Regions from separate parts of the Homo sapiens genome. Here region 1 is linked to region 2. The links come from fine-mapping of genetic effects on plasma protein levels. Region 2 holds a variant in brackets. A gene starts in the other region. All regions are shown on their reverse strands. Region 1 holds the start of TCL1A (TCL1 family AKT coactivator A). Region 2 has its middle 4.7 kb from the start of TNFRSF13C.

Evidence for each region. PIP is the posterior inclusion probability: the model's chance that the variant is causal. The UK Biobank Pharma Proteomics Project read protein levels with antibody pairs (Olink). The fine-mapping took linkage between variants from a reference panel, not from the people measured, so its PIPs are less certain.
Region 1: it holds the start of TCL1A, and the variant in region 2 is fine-mapped to the plasma level of the TCL1A protein (UK Biobank, PIP above 0.99).

Annotation. Positions count from the first base shown.
Region 1 is chr14:95,712,022-95,720,700 of GRCh38, reverse strand. TCL1A (TCL1 family AKT coactivator A) reads left to right here and starts at 6,576. Exons shown (of 4, transcript NM_021966.3): 1 at 6,576-6,754; 2 at 8,305-8,481. The coding sequence starts at 6,635. LOC107984703 (a long non-coding RNA gene) reads right to left here and starts at 5,218. Exons shown (of 3, transcript NR_148060.1): 1 at 4,994-5,218; 2 at 3,133-3,230. RefSeq lists a silencer at 6,322-6,561 and enhancers at 6,792-6,841, 7,956-8,175, 8,216-8,375, 8,416-8,515.
Region 2 is chr22:41,927,502-41,935,501 of GRCh38, reverse strand. It overlaps a transcript of CENPM not described here. Among named protein-coding and RNA genes, the nearest start is that of TNFRSF13C, 4.7 kb to the right of the region's middle. RefSeq lists enhancers at 2,426-2,933, 5,477-6,086, 6,087-6,697, 6,841-6,910. The variant C/T (reference allele first, on the strand shown) is at 6,489.

The DNA of each region.
Region 1 (8,679 bases), not on the chromosome of region 2:
AAATGAGTCAATTCATCAAGAAGATAAAATAATTACAAATGTATATACCCTCAACCTCAGAGCATCTAAATATATAATGCAAATATTAATAGACCTGAAGAGAGAGATAGACTGCAATACAATAATAGTAAGGGAACTTAATACCTCCACTTTCAACAATGGAGAGATCATCCAGAGAGAAAATCAATACAGAAATATTGAACTTGAGCTACACTTTAGACAAAATGGACCTAACAGACATATACAGAACATTCTATACAACATAAGCAGAATATATTCTCAAGAGCACAGAGAACCTTCTATAAGATAGATTATATGTTAGGCCACAAAACAAGTGTTAACAAATTTAAAAAAATTGAAATCACATCAGGTATCTTTTCCAATCACAATGGCATGAAACTAGAAATCAATAGGAGGAATTTTGAAAATTCACAAGTATGTGGAAATTAAACAACATGCTCCTAAACAACCAGTGGTTGAAGAAGAAATTACAAGGAAAATTTAAAAATATTTTGAAACAAATGAAAGTGGAAACACAACATACCAAAACATATGAGATGTAGCAAAAGCAGTTCTAAGATGGAAGTTTATAGCAATAAATGCCTACATCAAAAAAGAAGGATCTTAAATAAACAACCTAACATCATACCTCCACAAACTGGAAAAAGAAGAAGAAATTAAGGTTTAAATTAGCACAAGAATGGAAATAATAAAGATCAGAGCAGAGATAAATGAAATATACTAGAAAAACAGTAGAAAAGATCAAGGAAACTAGGAGTTGATGTTTTGAAAAGAGCAAAATCAATAGAGCTTTAGTTAGACTAAAAAGAGAAGACCTAAATAAACAAAATCAGAAATGAAAGATGAAACATTACAACTGATACCACAGAAATATAAAGGTTCATAAGAGCCTGCTATGAATAATGTTGTGCCAACAAATTGGATAAACTAGAAGAAATGGACGAACTCCTAGACATATATAACCTAGTAAGACTGAATCATGAAGAAACAAAAAATCTGAACAGAGCAATAACAAGTGAGAAGATTGAATCAGTAATAAAAAGTCTCCCATCAAAGAAAAGCCCCACAACCTGATGCTTCACTGCTGAATTCTACCAAACATTTAAAGAACTAATACCAACCCTTCCCAAGTGCTCCAAAAAATTGCAGAAGAAGGAATACTTCCAAATTTATTGTATAAGGCCAGCATTACCCTGATACTAAAGTCAGACAAGGACACTGCAAGAAAAAAATATATTACAGGCCAATATCCCTGATGAATATAGATGTAAAAATCCTCAACAAAATACTCGCAAACTGAATTCAACAGCACATCAAAAGGATCATTCATCATTATCAAATGATATTTATCCCAGGGATACAAGGATAGTTCAACGTGCACAAACCAGTAAAAGTAACACATCACATTAACAGAATGAAGGACAAAAACCATATGATCATCTCAATAGATGCAGAAAAGGCATTTGACAAAACTGAATATCCTTTCAAGGTAAAAACTCTCGACAAATTAGGTCTAGAAGGAATGTACCTCAGTACAATGAAGCATATATGACAAGTCCACAGCTAATGTCATACTGAATAGTAAAAAGTTTAAGGCTTTTTCTCTAAGATCAGGAACAAGAGAAGGATGCTCACTCTCACTGCTTCTAATCAGCACAGAACTGGAAATCCTAATCAGAGCAACAGGTAAAAGAAAGAAAAGGCATCCAAATGAAAAGGAAGAAGTTAAATTGTCTCGGTTTGTAGAGGACATGATCTTGTATGTATAGAAAACTCCTAAAGATTCCATCCAAAAGCTGTTCGAACTGATAAATGAATTCAGTAAAACTGCAGGATACAAAAACCAACATACAAAAATCAGTAACATTTCTATACACTAATAATGAGCTATGTGAAAAAGAAATTTTAAAAATCCCATTCACAATAGCTACAAAAAATAATAAAATACTTAGGAATAAATGTAAGCAATGAGGTGAAAGATCTGAACACGCAAAACTACAAAATACCCATGACAGAAACTGAAGAAGACACAAACGAATGGAACAATATCTCATGTTCATAGATTGAAGGAATTAAAATTATTAAAATGTTCATCCCACTCAAAGCAACCTACATATTCAACGCAATCCCTACCAAAATTCCAACAACACTTTCACATTAACAGAAAAAATAATCCTAAAATTCATATGGAACCACAAAAGGTCTGAATAGCTAAAACATTTTTGAACAAAACAGAAAAACAAAAACAAAGCTGTAGGCATCATAGCATCAGTAGGACAGTAACACCCAAGGTGTGGAGTAATCCCAGGATTGAGAAATGTTTCCAGTACAAATGTAGGTCAATTTTAACTTGCCTCTGGCAAATGGCAACCACAGTTGTAGCTCAAAGTGTCCAGTGCAATTCTATCACATCTTGGTCACTCGCTAGCTTGGCAGAATCAACTATTCGCTGCATTTTGAGTAGGGGTTGTGAGTTGTGTTTTTCATTTGTGTTTTGTGTGGGTATCAAGGGTAGCATGGGGGTTAGTATAGGTCCTTGCCACCCAGAGGTGATTTATAGACCATTAGTACCTGTATCAACTCCGAGGATATGAATATGTTACAAATTCAGAATCTTGAGAATCGCCTCAACCCTACCATATTAGAATCTGTATTTAAATAAAATCTCCATATACACCTTAAAGTTGGAGAAGCTTTAAGTTCCTTAGAACTGTTAATTTTAAAGAGAGAGATGATAGCTATGTAGTGGGCAGAGTAGGATCAGTCCCTAATTTCTACTTGAAATATCCTTGTCTCAGATTCTCCATTAATTTAGAGATACCATTTCATCCCTTATGAGTAAAGGCTACAACATCTTTTGTACCCTGAACTCACTTGATCAGCAGCCTTAATTATTTCAACTATGGCCCAGACCTAGGAACTAAAAAAAAAAAAAAAAAAACAAAAAAAAAAACAGGCTGGGCACGGTGGCTCATGCCTGTAATCCCAGCACTTTGGAAGGCCGAGGTGGGAGGATCACCTGAGGTCAGGAGTTCAAGACCAGCCTGACCAACATGAAGAAACCCCATTTCTACTAAAAATACAAAATTAGACAGGCGTGGTGGCGCATACCTGTAATCCCAGCTACTCGGGAGGCAGAAGCAGGAGAATCGCTTGAACCCAGGAGGTGGAGGTCGCAGTGAGCCAAGATCACACCATTGCATTCCAGCCTGGGCAACAAGAGGGAAACTCTGTCTCAAAAAACAAACAAACAAACAAAACACTCCAGGCATGGATGCCTTAATAGCTACATATATATCACAGATTCTGTGTTTTACACATTAGCAAGATCTCAGACCCTTATGATTCCAATAAACTTAGGGCTATGGATCCCTGACCACGAAGGATTGGAAGCAGCAAAGTAGGGCAAAGGGAAAGAAGTAAAATATGGAGTTGGGGTGAAGTTTACAATGAGAATTGATGGTAGAAAGAATAGCTTTGACATTTTCGTAGTTATTTAGATTTATAAATCTGTGCACACGTCAAAAACAGTCACTCAGATCTTAGAGAAATTGTACTTAACCCTGCCTACGTGTTAGCATCACCTACTTTTCTCAAGCCTCAATCTCGGAGATTCTGATGTAATTGGTTTGGAGTGGGATCCAGGCGCAGGTGTTTCATTAAAGCTTCCCAGGTGATTCTTAGTGGTTTAGGCTCAGTCATCATAGGGCCCAAAGGCCTAAACACCTAAGTAGCCTCTAAATAGGCTCTTTCCAGCTTGCTATAATCATTGACAATCAAGGACCCCAGGGTTGGTGAGGATGACCTTGGTTACTAGGATTTTCTTTTAAGAGGAAAACACTCTATATATTAGAGGTGATTTTGGCAGAAAATAAGATAGCCTGGAAGTAAATGATACACAAACACCGATATAAGTCCTGTGTCATAGTTGGAGAAATCTGGAGGGCACTGGTGTGTTGAATCAGACACCCCCTATCTCTCCCTCTTGACCCTCCCTCCATATAGCCCAACATTTACCATGCCCGTGAATCACCTGGGGGTCTTGTTCCAATACAGATTCTGACTCAGTAGTCTTGGGGGAGGCTCCAGATTCTGTCATTCTTACGAGCTCCAGGTGATGCTACTGTAGCTGGTCCAGGGACAACACTTTGAGTCAAGGTCATCCTGATGGCCTTGACTACTCCTCAACCCCTTCTTTGGAACCCAAACAAGAAGAATGGCTCCCATGAATTCCACTGGGGTCCTTGATCTACAGCCACTGTACCAAAAACTGTAGGCATTCCTGAACTAACATCATATATTTTGTCCATCTCTTTTCTTAACTATTCCCTCCTCCCACTAGGCAATGTTATAGGAGGATTGGGGCCTACTGAGTTAGAAACAAGCTTAGAGAGCAGGTATTTTGCCCCATTCATTACAAAACTATGGCACTGAGGCCAAGTTGCAAAGGATTTGTCAAGTTCACAGGTGATCGTGGTAAAGGCAAAACTAGATCTAAATCAGGACATGAACGCATCCATTAAGGATTCTGTCAAAATGATTGCTTCCTGTAGCTTTCTGTGTGAAACATCCATTTGCTTATCCTCAGGGAAATCAGACTAACAAAGACTTGGAAAGGAACATAAAATTCTAAAGCTAGGCTTATGGCCTTTATAACCCTTAGATGGGGCAGATAACATGCCACGGAGGCTCAGAGACAGCTCTGAGACTATGCAATAGCTACTGTTTCCCCTCTTGTGGAATGTTCACTTAAAAAAGCTCAAGGGCTCTATAAGTTGCCCAATGAACTCCACAGACATCCTTAATTCATTTTCATTTATTGGAACCCTCTCTCAAATAATTTTCTAAATCTCACGCAATAATGATGTATATTCTTGCTCAATATTAAGAAGCCCTCATGCAAAACTGAAGAAATAAATTGTTCTTACAAAAGAAGGAAAAAGGAATTATATTCTCAGAACATTCTGCTTACCCAGACACACAGATCTGATTCTTGCTCCATTGTTTGTGGCATTCTGGATCCTAGGGCCATTGATGAGGCTGGGTCAGTGGCCACACTGGCTCCTGGGTACCCCTTCCCTGGCCACAAAAGTCCATCCCAGCAGCACTATTTAAACTGGACTTATTTCTCACTTCACAGCTCTGGCCTGGGCTGAGACCTCCCCAACAGAGCTTATTAGCGAGCTTGTCATCTTGCTCTGTGGCTATCTAGGTCTGGAGTCAAGAGCCATTCACAGGAAAATCAGCATGAAACCTTTAAGTTTGCATATTAAATATTAACACCACTAAGGGCTACAGTGGAAAAGAGGTTTGCTGAGCTCAAGGGCCCTCACTCCACCCCCAACTTCCCTTGGCTTTTCTCTTCTATGTTGTGTTCCTGGTAAATCCCATTATGTCTCGACTACCTTAGGCCCTCTCAGCCCCTTCTTGGGAATTAGGCTCTCTGGATAGGCAAAGAGGCAGATACCCAGCTGCCAGGTGAATCAGATGTCCTCATCAGATCTCTTAATTTCCACTTTGGTGATATTTCAAAGGATCACAAATTATGTTCTTAGTGCCTGGTCAGAGAACTGGGAAAGAGCTGGAAGATGAGACACCAAACTCCATCCCATGGTGATGTTTGAACCAGGCTGGAGCTGGTTTCACATGTTTTTCATTGTGCATGACTTTCTTAATTGCCTTAGTGGGAATGCGTTACTGCAAAATAAAGTGAAATTGTTTTCCTTATTGCTTGTAATTTACAGAGGGGTGGTTTTGATCATATAAACCAGGCACTTTTCAAATCCATTGATCTTAGGGTGGAAGGAGGGATTTCTTTTTAAGTATTCATTTCGAACTATGCTTTCACTAGTAAACTCAAAGCCCAAGGGCAAAAACCCATGATTCTCCATTTTGTAATAGCTATTAGATGTCCACAGCACATCAGACCTGTGGAAAACGCATGCTTTGTGTATGGAAGAGGGAGAGGGAGCGTCAGGAGTTGTCCTTTGCCAAAAAACGTACTCTGACACTCAAAGGCACAGGCTGGTGGAGATCCAGGGAACCCGGGAAAGCCCAGGCCTAACTCAGGCCCGCGCGGGTCTCTTCTGATCCCATAAGATGAGGAGTGGGTCCTGGCTCTGGGCATCCTGGTGTCGACTGTGAGTTCCCAGCAGAGGCCCAGAGTCCCGGTCCGGCAGCCGAGGGAAGCGGGGGGGTCTTCCAGAAGAAGAAAGGGCCAAGGTCACCCCGGTGCCTCTCCAGCAGCAGCAGAGGGCGGCGGTCGGTGTCGCTGCTGGCCGGGGCCTCGAGGAAGGCGCGGGCCAGCTGGGGCCGGGTCTGCGTTCCCAGGAGCTGCCACCGTTCCAGGGAGCAAGTCAGGCCGGGACGTAGCGCCTGCGCGGGACCCTCACTTGCCACCAAGACCCCCACAAACCCCGCCCCATCCTGCCTTACGCCCCGCCCCAAGGTCGTTCTCCCGACCCGGGGTCCCGCCCCAAGGCCGTCCTCCCGCCCCGCCGCTTGGTGGCGGCCGCATGCTGCCCGGATATAAAGGGTCGGCCCCACATCCCAGGGACCAGCGAGCGGCCTTGAGAGGCTCTGGCTCTTGCTTCTTAGGCGGCCCGAGGACGCCATGGCCGAGTGCCCGACACTCGGGGAGGCAGTCACCGACCACCCGGACCGCCTGTGGGCCTGGGAGAAGTTCGTGTATTTGGACGAGAAGCAGCACGCCTGGCTGCCCTTAACCATCGAGGTACAGCCAGCTTTGGAGCGGATGGCGAGGCAGCAGGGGCAGCCCCTGGGAGCTTGGGATGCCCTAGGAAGGGCGAGGACTCAAGGAGCACTCACTATGGGGCAGGGAGGATCCCCACAGATGAAGCCACTTTGAGCCGGGCTCTGGAGGATGAATAGGAGTTCTCCAGGCAGGGAAGAAGGGTGGGAAAACCGCAAAGGAATGTCGGTCAAAGGGGTGGACCCAGTGCCTGTGGAGTGTGACTATAATGTTGACTACAGCAGGCATTTTCTGGGCTTCGGGGTCCTAATCCTTAAAAATGGGTATCTCTAAGTGACTCATCCATATGGCCGATTATCGGAATCATCTCAGGTGGGTCCCAGAAATCTGTATTTTTAAAAAGAACCCTCAACAGTTTAGGGTCAACCAGGCATAGCAAACACTGGCCTAGAGTGTGAAGTATTTTCCACTACCTCTGGGCTTTATTTAGAAAACAAATTTAACAAGTGATGTCGTAGTATAAGCGCCGGTATTGAATCAATATTGACTTTTTTAATGTGTGATGCCTTAAGATGGGTCCTTAATCCATGTTAAGTTTTTGTTAAAGAAATAGATAAGTCTTTTACAAGTATTTGGATTTACTCAATGAAAAAGAGTCAAAAAATGTTCAAACTCTCTCCAAACATACACTGAAGAAAGCATAAAAATTAAAAAATATATTAGAACACGTATGTCCAGTAGCAATCAAAAATTATTGAGTGTTGACTGTGTCTCTACAGATGGGAAACTGAGGCACAAAAATGTACATTTGTCCGAGGTAAGATTGCTAGTAGGTAATGGGGTTGGAATTCTAGGCTCTTAACCACCACAAAATCTGCATTTTTATTGGCATTTCAATTTTTTAAATATGTTTTTACTTTAAAAATCAAGTTAAATACTTACTTTTTTAAAATCAAAATTTGAAGAAATAATTTGAAGATTCAGTGGATTTCTTTTTTTAAATCTCTGAGAAATCTCTTCTTCAACGTGACACCAAAACCACGAACCAGACAGTTTTTCATAAAATCATGATACATGCTCCACAAAAAATAACCCACTAGCAAACTGTGGGACAGATTTTGCCTCACATCATTGAAAAGGCCAGTATTCTTTTTCTCTCTTTCTTTCTTTGTTGTTTTTTTTTTTTCCTGTAGATACAGGGTCTCGCTCTGTGACCCAGGCTGGTCTTAAACTCCTGGCCTCAAGCGATCCTCCTGCCTCTGCCTTCCAAAGCACTGGAATTACAAGTGTGAGCCGCTGCAACCCGCCAGAAAAAAGTGTGCCTTTCATGGCCCTGTCTGGGTGGCTAGACACGTGTGTGTGCTGGTGGTCCTGGCCCAGCCAGAGTCCCTGAGAGGAGCATGCATGGCCTAAGGAAGTGAGCTTCAGGGAACAGTGATGACCATCATTTCACACTCGGACCCCTGCCCAGATGGGTGGATGGCTGGCAGGAGGGATTCCGGTTTTCTGCGCCTGGAGAAGCCCTGGCAAGCGGAACCTGAAAGTATGCCCTGTCCTTTTCTTCTCCTCAGATAAAGGATAGGTTACAGTTACGGGTGCTCTTGCGTCGGGAAGACGTCGTCCTGGGGAGGCCTATGACCCCCACCCAGATAGGCCCAAGCCTGCTGCCTATCATGTGGCAGCTCTACCCTGATGGACGATACCGATCCTCAGACTCCAGTTTCTGGCGCTTAGTGTACCACATCAAGGTGAGTGTCTTTCTCCCAGAGGTCCATCGGGTGATCTTGGGTTTGCCCTCCTCCATGTCTGGCCTTAGTGGTTTATCTTCCCTCCATCCCAGTCCCAAAAGCATTAAAAAATGGGGGAAATGTACAAGTGCAGATTTCTAAAGGACTTTACCAGAGAGAAGATAGATCCTCTGAGGTCTCTAACAGAACCCTACCTCC
Region 2 (8,000 bases):
CAGCCTTCCCAGAGAGTGACCTTGTCTTTGGCCCTTCTGTCCTTGGCCAGAATGCGTGTCTTTGCAGGGTAACTGGAGGGTAGAGTAGGTCTTTGGCGGGGCTGATGGAATGGGTGTCCAAGCAGGGGAGGAAGGCGGTGTGGATGCAGCCTGCCTGATCTGGGATGTCACTTTTTGCTGGCGACCAGGAGGAGAGGCCTTCCCCCACACCCCCTCCCCCCCATGCCCGCATGGGGCACCTCTCTCAGGTCCCTGTGCCACATTTTCCTTGCCACCTGGTACCATTTAACAAGAGAAGTGGCATCGCATTCTCCAGCCAAGAGTCTGGGAACCTTCCAAGCACTGGGGAACACAGTGCTGTCACTGCCGCCAGCTCCCAGCTGAGCTTGGCAGGGGCCCTGGAACCAGGAGGCCTCCCCTCTAGAGTTGGGGGCTGGCCTGCCCCTGCCTCACAGCAGAGCTGAGCCACACTTAAATGGCAGGCAGGTGCCCTCAGACCTGCTGTCCCTGGAAGGCGGGGGATGGGTGGCCAGAGAGTGGGGTTGCTTCACGCCATCTGGAGACCCAGTGACATTGTCCAGGAGACAGTTTGGCTGAGGGAAGTAATGGAAGATCAGTGTGTGCCGGAATTGGGGCTTGGTACTGAGGTAAGGTGGAGGGAGATGGGAGAGGCTGGGCTTGGCTGCTTGCTTGGTGGCGTGACCTCAGGCAGGTCACTCACCCTCGGCAAGCCTCAGTTCCTCAGCTGTAGCGTGGCGCCAGGCTAACCGATGCCTTTCTTCCTAGCTAGTTGAGGACTGGCAATGAAGAAGCCACTATTTTATGTATTTATTTAGAGATGGGGTCTTGCTATGCTGCCCAGGCTGGTCTCAAATTGCTGGCCTCAAGCCCATTATTTTGAACATAAAGCTTTAAACAAATGTCAGATGCCTCAGGGTGGCCATGGTCATGACGTGGTCATTGCAGGATGTTGAAGGCGGGCAAGAACCCCCTAGGCCTACAGGCTGGGAATGGGGGGGCGAAGGCTACTGGAAGCGGCGCCTCTTCAGCTGGGCCTGGAAGCTGCCCCGTCCGTGCTCTTATAAGCTGGAAGGAAGGTGGTGTTTGGGCCCCACTCTTAGAGGAGTAGAGCTTACTCGGAGTCACACACTCATTTGTCCCCCTCATTCCACCTGGCTGTGAGCAGTCCTTGGGACCCCAGGGAGTTCACGTTCTCCATGGCCAGTGGTCCAGGCCCGAGTGTCCTGGCCTCAATCTGATGGTGTTTCCCATCCCTACCAAGGAGGCAGGACCTTCCTAGCAAGGAGGGGCTCTGCAGCCTGGGCCCCGTGTCTCCTGCACCCCCGGTGAGCAGAGGCAGGAGCAGCCCAGCTGCAGAGGGGAAGTGGTGCAGTGGGAACAGGAGCAGCCTCCGAGTCCCACCGACTTGGGGTCTGTGGCTGATCTGCAGTGTGACTTGGGGCAGCCCACTTCCCTCTCCAAGCCCCACTGCCTGCCCCCCTTTTCAGGTCTTGTGAGGCTTGGAGAGAAACTGAAGAGCCTGACTCCATGCCAGCCCTTCCACCCTCTACAGACAGTGGCTCGGTACGGGCTGGCAGGCTGGTGGGCGAGGAGAGCCGTGGGGTTCTTGAGACAAGGCCCTGTTACAGTTGCCCCCAACCCACACGCATCAGGGGTGCTGGGCCAGGCCTGCTGGCAGGGCTCGAGCACAAAGGGACGTTTTCTGGAAGGTTCTGTTGGCTTAGCCCCTCCCCTCCAGTGTACCCTGGGGTCAGAAGGACACAGGCAGAGAGTCTCTGTGAAAGAATGTCTCACACTTGGGGGCTGAGGGAGACAGTGGGGTGGGCTGCCAGGCTGTGTACCCTAAGTCTGCGGGTCCCACCTGAGTATGGGATGCTGTGGACTGGGGGCTGCTGAGGGCAGCTCCCTGGGGAGAGTGGGTAGGTACTTCCCAGAGCCCCGGACCTGCACAGGAGGCAGCCTTCCCTGGACCGCCCTCTTCCATCAAAGGGTATGCCAGCCGAACTTGGGGCCCCTGCGAGCTGGCCAGGCCCAAGGGGTCCCCCAGCCCTCCTCCTCCAATATGCTTGGCCAGCCTCCCTGTGAGGACACAGACCCCTGGGCCTCACCCCCACCCCCACCCCCTCTCCCTGCCGCTGTCCGCACACGGGAAGAGGACCCCACTGATGTGTGTAGTGTGGCAGGCTCAGGGGCTGCCTGGCGGGCCCCTTTACTCTAGCCTGCTTTCCCTCTTTGTAAAGTGGGACCAGTCGTGCTAGCCCCACACAGGGCTGAGGGAGGAGACGGCCGGGTAGGGAGATGCTTTGCGCACAGCCCTTTTCCTGGTCACTGGGCCTTCTCTGCTTCCCCCAGACATCCTTGGGGATCGCTCCACCCTGTCCTCTGTTCCGAGGTCACCATCCACCAGGCCTTCTCTGACTCCCCTGTTTGAAATTGCACCCATAACCCTCGAGCACCCTGCCCTTCTGACTTTTTCTCCCCAGCACTCCTTACCTCCCCACCCACTACGTTGTGTCCCATTTGGGTTTCCTCTCTGCTTCCCTGCTATTTCCCCAGAACCCAAAACAGCTCCTGGTGCCTGGTAGGTGCTAAGTGAGTGAGTGGCGAGTGACGGGGAGGCATCCGCGCAGGGGTCGGCCTCTGCGTTCACAAGGGCCTTCCTGCGTGGTACCCTGAATAAGGCCTGGGAGGTTGGCCCTGGGGGCCCCCGTTCCTCTCCCCCTTGCCTACCCTGGCCTTACAGCCTCCCTCTACTTCACACACCTGGCCCCCAAGAGGTGGGGGCTTTGCTCCCTGTGGCTAAAGGGCTGTGGTCTGCCCTCTAGTCTCACATGGAGGGCCCATGTCCTCTATCCCGGGGCCATGCTGAGAGTGGCTGGGGTGCCCTGGCCAGACCCTGTGGAGTGCAGGAGCGCGCGTGTGTGCGCACGTGTGCATGGAGTGGCGGGCTGGATGACAGGCAGCTCCAGCCCATGAAGACCCAGGCAAGGATTTGTGACTGCTTCATGGAAGGGCGTGACCTGCCCTCCCCTGGTGTGGGTTCGGGGAGGAACGGGATCTGGGGACTCCCAGGCCTCTGCCTCTGGGTCACACTGCTCTGGACTCGCCAGGACTTTGTGCTGATTCCGTGGCCACTCTGCCCTCTCCCAATGAACCGAGGCCCACGGCACTGCATCCTTTCCCCTGGCCCCAGCAAGAGGTACTCTGTAGCATTGTACTTGTTTGTGGGGGCTTTTAAATACAGGAGAAGGGAAAGGAAATAACCACAAGGGGTGGTCCTGGCGCTGTCATGAGACAAAATGGAGCCAAGAGAGCTGACTCGAAGCCCTGCAGGCCCAACCCAGCCAGCAGAGCCATCTCCACTGCTGACCCCATTCCTGGAACACGGGAAAAGCTGTTTGTGTGTACACCTACACGAGGGGGCAAAGGCACAGAACCAGGCAGTGAAGAAAGGCTCCCAAGGGAAAACAGAGACTCCCTCTGGGGACCGTGGGGAAACGCCCTTTGTCACTCATAGACTTCTGTATTGTTTGCAGGTTTTTCCTGAGCACGTGTTCAGGTACTACTGCATAATTACAACGAAAACTGATTTTGAAGTACAGAGTGCATCCCAGGCCCCAGAGCAGTTTCACATCCAGATCTGGGGGACTGGGCCTCTCTGTCCCCAAGGACTGCTCCCCATGACACTGTGCTTGTCCCATCCCCAGAGTGCTCTCACTTTCCCCAACCCCGTCCCTGAAGCATGTAGGGCCCAGGCCACGCTTCACAGTCAGGTGGACACAGACCCCCTGCAGGCCCCTCCCATCTGCTGGCTCATCTTGAGAGGGCCCTTGCCCCTTAAAGCCTCTGTTTTCTCATCTGGAAAATGTCCTAATAGTACCTGCATCAGATCCTTGTGAGGGTGTCTTCAGGAGAATTGGGGCACAAAAATCGACAGAAACCCCCTTCTCTCTGAAGACCCCAAACTATCTTGTTATTTTATTATTATTTTTTTTTTTTCTGAGATGGGGTCTCGCTCTGTCAGCCAGGCTGGAGTGCAGTGGCACGACCTCAGCTCACTGTAACCTCTGGCTTCCGGGTTCAAACAATTCTTCCTGCCTCAGCCTCCCAAGTAGCTGGGATTACAGGCGCCAGCTACGACACCCGGCTAATTTTTTTTTTTTTTTAAATTTCTTATAGAGAGAGGGTTTCACCATGTTGGCCAGGCTGGTCTCAAACTCCTGACTTCTGGTGATCCACCCGCCTCGGTCTCCCAAAGTGTTGGGATTACAGGCATGAGCCACCACACCAGGCCCAAATTATCTTTTTAAAAAGAGTATTCAGTGAATTAAAAGTAGAGCATGGTGGCCGGGTGCAGTGGCTCACGCCTGTAATCCCAGCACTTTGGGAGGCCGAGGCGCGCAGGTCGCTTGAGACCAGGAGTTCGAGACCAGCCTGGCCAACATGGTGAAGCCCCGTCTCTACTAAAATGCAAAAGTTAGCTGGGCATGGTGGCACGTGCCTGTTATCCGAGCTACTGGGGTGGCTGAGGCACGAGAATCGCTTGAACCCAGGAGGTGGAGGTTGCAGTGAGCCAAGATCGTGCCATTGCATTCCAGCCTGGGCAACAGAGCGAGACTCCATCTCAAAAAAAAAAAAAAAAGACTTGAATAAAGAAATTAGGCCAGGAGTGGTGGCTCATGCCTGTAATCCCAGCACTTTGGGAGGCCAAAGTGGGCAGATCACCTGAGGTCAGGAGTTTGAGACTAGCCTCCCCAACATGGCGAAACCCCACCTCTCCTAAAAATACAAAAAATTAGCCGGGCCTGGTGGCAGGTGCCTGTAATCCCACGTACTCAGGAGGCTGAGGCAGGAGAATCGCTTGAACCTGGGAGTTGGGTGTTGCAGTGAGCTGAGTTGGGTGTTGCTTATCGCACTGCTGTATTCCAGCCTGGGCGATAAGAGTGAAACTCCATCTCAAAAAAAAAGAAAAGAAATTAGGCCAGGCGTGTTGGCCAAGGTGGGTGGATCACTTGAGGTCAGGAGTTCAAGACCAGCCTGGCTAGCATGGTGAAACCCCATTTCTACTAAAAATACAAAAAAATTTAGCCAGGCATGGTGGCCCGTGCCTGTAGTCCCAGCTACGTGGGAGGCTGAGGCAGGAGAATGGCTTGAACCCAGGAGGCAGAGGCTGCAGTGAGCCGAGATCACGCCACTGCACTCCAGCCTGGGTGACAGAGCCAGACTCCGTCTCAAAAAAAAAAGGGACGCGGTGGCTCACGTCTGTAATCCCATCACTTTGGGAGGGCGAGGCGGGCAGATCTCGAGGTGAGGAGATCAAGACCATCCTGGCTAACGGTGAAACCCCGTCTCTACTAAAAATACAAAAAATTTGCCGGGCATGGTGGCGGGCGCCTGTAGTCCCAGCTACTCGGGAGGCTGAGGCAGGAGAATGGCGTGAACCTGGGAGGCGGAGCTTGCAGTGAGCGGAGATTGCGCCACTGCACTCCAGCCTGGGCGACAGAGAGAGACTCCGTCTCAAAAAAAAAAAAAAAAAAAAAAAAAAGCCACGGGGAAATAAGAATACATTGAGGAGTAAACTAACATTCCCCACATTGGTCTGATTGTGAATTCTTCTTAACTGTTTTGTCATCCAAGTAGCGACACAGGGCCTGCTGCAGCCCCCCACCCCCACCCCATTTAGGAGGCCCAAGTGGAAAGGTTCATGTGAGGCCAGGCACCTGCACACAACACAGACACGAATCCCGCAGGCCTTTTGTCCCGGCACCTGGCCCAGCACATAGGGAGCGCCCAGCAAACATTTGTGTCACATGAGTGGGTGTCTCATTTGTGTCTGCTGCTCTTAGCAGCTGGCCTCCCTCTCTGGCCAAGGTAAGGGACCCTGGAACTCTGACAGTGGGCTCCAGCCCTCCCACTCTCTCTGGCCTTGAGAGCAGTCTCCTCGAGTCTCTGCTGGGGGTCAGAGCAGCCAGTGCTTCTGCTGTGAAACGCAGACCTGGGGCAGGCGGACCCCCTCCTCCTAACTCCTGTAAATTCTCCCGACTCTGGCCTCACTGGGCCACCCTCTCCAGGGACAGGTTCCCCGTTCCTGGGTTCCCACAAGCCTCAGTCTGCCCACATGGCTGGCACAAGGGCTAAATGAGCTGCCTGGTACTCAGTCAGGCCTCTGCAGCCCTCACTAATGGGTAATACCAGCACCAACATGGATGGACGTGTATGTGGGTGGCAGGGTTATGGCTCAGTCTTCTGGCTTTGTCCCCACCTCTCTGCCTCACAGAGAGGCCTTCCCTGCCCTGGCTCCCCTCCAGGGTCCTGTCCCCCATCCCTGTACCGTACACCCACGCTCACCCACACCTGCCCCCACCCCCACATCACCATACACCCACGCTCACCCACACCTGCCCCCAGCCCCACTTCTCCTTTGCAGCTCCCCTCCGCCCACACCTTCCTGCCTGGGAGCTGCTGGC[C/T]CATGTACAGGGGATGGAGAGGGTGGGCCAGCGCCCACCAGTCAGGGCTGGCTGACTGGGGTTCTTTGTGAACCTTCAGGGTCTCCCAAGCTGGAAACCTGGGGGTCGGCCTTGCTCCCCTCACTCCATGGCCAGCCGCTGCATCATCCCCTGCCCTGGGCCACCTGCCCTGGACGTGGGCCACAGTGCCAGAGAGAGGGACCCTTGCAGGTACAGCTCAGAATCTCCCTCCTACCCAGACACCCCCAGGTTCTGTACTGCCCCGGGACTGGTGCCCTGCCCATCCGCAGCCCGGATGCTCCCTCCTCCCTCCCAGCATCCCCTGTGGCAGTGGCCATGCCTGCCCCCAGAGCAGCTCAGGCTCCCCTTTCATCTCTCCAAGCCTTAGCCCCTGCAGCCCTCCGCCTGGAGTGTTTGCCTCCCCCTCGCTGCTGCTCAGGGTCTCCCTCTGCCCCCAGGCTCCCTCCCCAGCCCCTGAGTTTCTCCTCTCACTGTGCTTCCCCAGCCCTGAGTGCTTAGGGGTCTGGGTGGCATGTGTGGCATTTAACCCCATGCTCTCTGCTGAGCCCTGAGCTCCCAGAGTTCCCTCCAGCCCTGGCCCTGGGGAGGGGGTAGCATGTGACCAGGAGGGCGGAGGGGCTTGTGTGTGTTTCTGAGACGCAGTCTGAGAGAGACACGGGTGACAGACAGTTGGGGACCCCAAACACTGGGGAGCAGAGATAGACAGGAGGGGCCCGCAGTGAGACACAGAGGTGAGCAGGAGAGGACACATAGCCCTGGAGAAAAGGAGCAGGTGTGGGCGGGCTTCCCTCCACTGCAGTCACAGTTCCCTCACTCATAGGCAGATCTTCCTGGGTCCTCCCTGCACAAAGCCCCAGTGGCTCCCTCGTGTCCCCCAGCCACAGTCCAAGCTCCCTAATGTGCTAGATAAGGCCCCAGTCCAGCCTTTCGGTCCCAGCACTCCCTGGACTTCCTGTTTGGGCCTCCAAGCCTTTGCTCCCCTTTGGCCTTCACCCCCATCTGCTCCCTAGACCTCAGTCCATCTGGCAAACACTTCACCATCGCCCTCTCCATGAAGCCTTCCGGCCCACCTTCCAGGATGACGTGAGCTGGTGCCCTTGCTGCGAGGCTGTCTTCCCCCATCAGCACAAGTGTGAGATTCCCTCAGGGCAGACCCACATGCTACTTGGGCCTGGTACAAGTGTCTGATGTCAGGCTGGGCACTGTGGCTTCACACCTATAATCCCAGCACTTTGGGAGGCCGAGGAGGGCGGATCACCTGAGGTCAGGAGTTCGAGACCAGCCTGGCCAAATGGTGAAACCCCACCTCTACTAAAAATACAAAAATTAGCCGGGCATGGTGGTGCATGCCTGTAATCCCAGTTACTCGGGAGGCTGAGGCAGGAGAATCGCTTGAATCTGGGAGGCAGAGGTTGCAGTGAGCCGAGATTGCACCACTGCACAGAGCCAGACTCTTTTTCAAAAAAAAAAAAAAAAAAAGCAGGTGTCTGA